Regions from separate parts of the Homo sapiens genome. Here region 1 is linked to region 2. Evidence: fine-mapped expression QTL. A gene starts in region 2. The other region holds a variant in brackets. All regions are shown on one strand. Distances are from middle to middle.

Region 1 (2,500 bases), 22 kb before region 2:
GGCCACGCACGCCTCCTCCTTCAGCTAGAAAGTCACCTTCACCACTATCTGCAGTCTTTAAAGATTCATTCACATACACAAAAGAGAGCAACAGCAATGTTAGCCAGAAGAGGAGACAGTGGCATGCCTACAAGTCCCCAGGAAGAGATGGCACTCTCACAGAGATTAAGGAGAGCAGACACAGGGCTTCGGCAAGCTTCAGGTTTCTTATCTTCAAATGGAAATCCTAGGACCCATTTTATGGAGTTGTTATGAGAATTAAAGGAGACAAGGTGTACAAATTTCTTAACTGTGTGTGACACTTAAATAAGCATTTGATAAATATTAGGAGTTTTAAAGAATCCATCCTAAAAGGAAAATTATTTGAATCTATAAAATCAGTTAAATTTTACCTTTTCATTTTTACTAATGACTGCAGACAGAAAGTTGAAAACTACTGTAGAGCTCTTTCTCCTGTAATTGCTGCTTCAGTAGAAAAACCTAGACTATCTTAACTGAATGTTCCTCTCTCCTTCAAGTTTCTATGTAACCTTTAGAGATGGATTCATAATTTAAAAGAATACCATTACTGCGGAAAAGCGTATTGCCTTACTAACTAATCTCTTCTGATACTGCAAAGATATTTCCAAAGATAATTCGTTTGCTTTTTCTTCTGTCTTGACAAACACAACAATAACCTTTCAGCAAAACTGTACTAACACTAAAAGTTCTGCTTATTATGGACAAGTAGCAAGAAATTAATAACTAAAGAAAACAAATCTTACCATAAAATGTTTTATTCCATTAACTAGCATTATAATGCACCAAGGCTTTATAGGTACAAGGATGGCAAATAATTCTTGCCCTTTTTAAAACAAAACAAAACAAAATGTGGTAAGACTGAATGACAGATGCTAAAGTTTCCCTTGTGAGTTTGTACACTCTCATCCATCTAAGATCTTCCTCTTGGTGTCATATTACCCTGTATTCTTGAGGTGTCAAGCCCACCCAGGAAATTTCCTCCCAGGCCTGGGGTCATAAAGCTAAGAGTGTGTCAGGACATAGAGCAGGTAGACTCTGACCTCCAGGCTCTTTGTGGAATAAACACCAGAGAGAAAGCAAGAAGAAAAAATGAAAAGGGCCATACCCATGCTGTGCCCACCACACTTAGGACCAGGCAGACGATCCTCATGGAAAACATCTTTTCTAAGGGTGGGGCTGGCTCCTGAGGAGCACTCCAGCTGAAAGAAAGGATTGCTGCCACTCCTAGTTCCCATCCTATTTAAATCTGCAAGAGGTTTGGTTAATCATTGGCTTTGTCCTGTGTA[G/C]ACAGTCAACCCTCCCTCTACGTCCTTTGTTCCTCCTATGCTGTTGGTATCCCAGAAATTCTTGCTCAATTCCCCTCAGCTTGTTTGCTTCCGATAAGCTGTTGCAAAGGTAGCATTTGATTCTCCAGTCAACAATTAGGAGATCTCACATTCCAGGAACAGGGTGGCTTTGAGAATGAAAAGAGGAGCATAGGAGGGTATATCCATATTTCTAAACGTGAAAGAATATAGAAGGTGCTTAGGTAAGCTAGCTGTAGCCCCCAGTAGTAGTGATTTAGCAAACAATATTTCACTTTATGCAGAAATTAGGGTTGGGTGATCTGGCTTATAAAAAAAATAACTTTGGGGATAAGCTGGCCCTGAAGGCTTTCTATAAGTTTATTTAGAACATATTACTTTTCTCTATTTAAAATATTAAGATGACAGCAGCCCCAGGAACAAAACATCTTGGGTTCATAATCCAAGCTGCACCACTTCCCTGCTCTATGTTCTTGGACAAGTTACTTTACCTCTTTATACTTCAGTTTCCTCATTTATAAAATAAGGATGCTGATAAGCTACCCCATGCTTTTATGAAGAATAAATGAGTTAATTCTTGTAAATCTCTCAGAACAGTGACTGTCACATAGGAAATACTCAGTGAATTATGGGAGATCATAAAGTGCCATGAAAAATACCATTTATTTCCTGTTTCTGTGCTAGCAATCTCATTTCTGAGTGTATTTCCAAAGGAAATGAAATCAGGATCTTGAAGAGACACCTGCATTCCCATGTTCATTGTAGCTATATTGACAATAGCCGAGATATGAAAACAACCTGTTTCCACTGATGGATGAGTAGATAAAGAAAATGTGTATATATATATATACACAATGGAGTATTACTCAGCCTTGAAAAAGAAGGAAATTCTGTCATTTGCAGTAACATTGATGAACCTAGAGGGCATTATCCTAAGTGAAATGAGCAGATATAGACAGACAAATACTGCTTAGCTGGTCGTGGTGACAGGCACCTGTAATCCCAGCTACTCAGGAGGCTGAGGCAGGGAGAATCACTTGAACGCGGGAGGTGGAGGAGGTTGCAGTGAGCCGAGATTGCATCATTGCACTCCAGCCTGGGCCACAGAGTGAGACTCCTTCTCAAAAAAAAAAAAAAAAACGGAAAAGAAAGACAAATACTGTATGATCTTTCTT
Region 2 (3,038 bases):
AGAGGAGAAATCTTTCCTGGGCCACTTCTCCCTAGCTACTATTTATCTCAATTTCTCAAGCTGCTTTGAGAAAAATTCAGAAAAAAAAATTGGGGAAAAATATTAAAACTGTATCTGAGACCTTATGTTCAGAAAGTTTATGAGTCCCTGAGAAGCTTTAACAGAGACATTCACTTCCAAATGAAGGGAAGAGACTATGCAGGTTCATTCTGCAATGATCAATATGAGCTTTGCAATATTTGCCACACTTAGTCTCTCAAGACATGTTTCTTCCTGCTCCACATTCAATATAATTTACTTTAGGAGCCAAAATCCTTACTATGCCTCTGCTTGCTAATTTTTTTAACCACCAATTTGTCAGCATTTTTATAAAGAGGATTTTATTTTCAACACCCAAATTCCTATGAGATTGATTTTATGTTGTAAGATAAATGGGGGATGGGGAAAAAATTTTTGATAAATATGGTCAAACTAGCATTTGAAGACATCTAGAACATCTTTCTTCAATGTGATTATTAATAAGCAATTATAACCCAGTATAATTTATATTGCACTAAAAACTTCTATCTCTACTATGCTCAACATAATCAGGCATAATGTCACTGGGATATTATAAATGGGGAAAACACATTAAAAATTACTTTCACTCAAGTATAGAATATTAAATAAAAACTAAATCAGTCTTGCAGAGCAAATTAAAACAAAAATCCTTACCGAATACTTGAGTCATGTGTTAAAATCGATGCTTCATATTTCATAATTTCTTCTAACATTTTCCTGGACTTCAAAGTAGCAGCGTCTATCATATCTGTAATATAGGATCAGAGACATAAAAATCCTTAAGCAAATAGAACAACTAAAACAACAGCAAAAGAACTTCACAGATTATTATTATTATTTTTTGGTCAGTAGTCTTTATTTTCTCACTTGGTTTTGATGATTCATCAGGATTATAAGTGAGTTGGATTGCTTTTATCAGCTGTTTGACTTCTGATGTTTTGTTTTCAACTTGATGTAAGATGTCTTCCAAAGACTGTAGATCCTTGTCTACTTTGGTTTGATAAGTAGACAGGAAATCTGCAATGCCACAGGTAGTTGGACAATAACTACCCTGAAAATATAACAGTGATTAAAAATGTAGACAGATGCTACTCTTAAAATCTATTAAGAAAAATAGGTAAAACCTAGACTATGTTTTTAAAAAGTTACAAGTGCCAGATGATATTTATGAGGGAATTATTTCTATTCCTCTGCCCCTCTCCAGTTCACACACAAAGGGAGAAACATAAAAACTACTTACGAATCTTTCATCTAAGATGCAGCAGTTGTCTCTGGTAGCAACATACTAAAAGAGAAAAAATACAGAAATTTCACTAGTTTATTATCTGTTTTATTTTCCAGCTTTCCATTTTAAACAACGTTTTGTGAAGAGCACACTTACTGCTACACATGTTGAAGAGAGAAATAAAAGAGCATAGAAGTAGAGAATTAAATTCCGGGGGTGCAAGGACCAACTCATGATGTCTGAGTGCCCGGAGCTCCGAGCCTTGTAGTGTCAGCACTGTCACCTCTCAGGCTCCAATTGTCCCTTTATGTAAGCTCCTGGGATAGCCAGGACTGCAAATGGCTGGAGCTGATCACGGGGCCTCCTTACCAGAAGGGTGGGCAGGTCTTTCCCGTTCCTTTTTCCTCATCCTGGCCCCCAACCTATACTGTCAGGTTCCCAGATTTTGCACACAGGTTGAAGCTCCTCCTTTTTGGCCCAGCTCAAGGTTTTTTCTCTGATCCAAAATTATCTGCAAAGGCTAGTGAAGCATTATCCATTGCTGTGAGGAGGAGGGCAGTCCTGGAGGCTGTGTGATGCAACTTCTTCCAGTACATGGCTGAGAGCAAACAGATATGACCTCGAACTAAGCAAACCTAGTCTATCCTTAAGATGGGTCCTGCTGCCATCACCTGAATTACCAAAAGAACTTTCTTAGCTTAGGGATCAGTTAACACTATTATTTTAGCCTAGGGATCAGTTAACATTATTATTTTTAATCTGTGGCTGTGGCAGGAGGAGACTGACTTCCCCCATGTCCCAGTTCACTATTCCCAGGAATGAATGACCCTGGAAATACATTCCTGTCCCTCTGTGTCAACCATGTTCATAGGCTCTCACTTCTCAGGGAGCTTTTGAGCTCAATCTTCCCTTTGTCTGAAGGTGGGCATGGCACCCCATCTGCCACAGAGAAAAGAGCCAGGAGCCCACTTCATTGTTCCTGTGGTTCCATCAAGCTATCTCAGAGAAGAGAAAAATCCACCTCCCTTGTATCTAAGGAGAGTAGAGGCATAGCTGAAGGAAGGGGCAAAATGAGGTGCTGGGGAGGGGCCATCATTTCTGTTTGGCCCTTACAGCATCCTTGTGTTTGGGAAAACATGTCTGTCATCACTGCCTATTGAGATTTATCACTGGGCGTTACACTATTATTAATGTCTCTATTTTTGGTTATCCCTCATTTCTTCCTCTGGAACCAAGCTTATTATAAGTTTTGATGAAATATGTTAGTGGGAGAAATGCCTCCAGTTTGAAAGAAATACTAATACTTTAATTCTGTCTTTACAAAGGTATATTTATTGACTCAAAAACAAAGATAAATATTCATATTCAGTAAATAATCAATAATTATAACAAAGTGAACACATCAAAACCAGATTTGTTGCTTTTCTTCTCCTCCTTAATATATCCCTCTCTGACTTAGCAGTTATTGTCAATCATATCACCATACCACCAGCCAATTAAGTCTCACAATCTTTCTCATCCATCTTTTCCACTCAGCTAATCAGTTGTCAATCAAGTCAGTTGAATTAAACATTTAAGTATTAGTATTCTTTCAAACAGCTCTACCTCAGATAGCATTTGTAGCAACCTTATATTATATGTATACATGCTGTATCCACTGCATTAGATTGTAAACTGATTTCTGTGGCTACGGCATCTAACATATATAGCTGTACTTAACATAGTTGTAGTTAACACTCAATAACTATGTAAT

Evidence for each region.
Region 1: its variant is fine-mapped to the expression of FGG in lung (TOPMed, PIP above 0.99).

What each region holds. Positions count from the first base shown.
Region 1 is chr4:154,589,508-154,592,007 of GRCh38, forward strand. FGA (fibrinogen alpha chain) reads right to left here and starts at 1,235. Exons shown (of 5, transcript NM_021871.4): 1 at 1,127-1,235; 2 at 1-55. The coding sequence starts at 1,180. The variant G/C (reference allele first, on the strand shown) is at 1,308.
Region 2 is chr4:154,611,091-154,614,128 of GRCh38, forward strand. It overlaps FGG (fibrinogen gamma chain), which reads right to left and starts at 1,566. Exons shown (of 9, transcript NM_021870.3): 1 at 1,442-1,566; 2 at 1,301-1,345; 3 at 928-1,111; 4 at 715-808. The coding sequence starts at 1,519. RefSeq lists an enhancer at 1,608-2,780.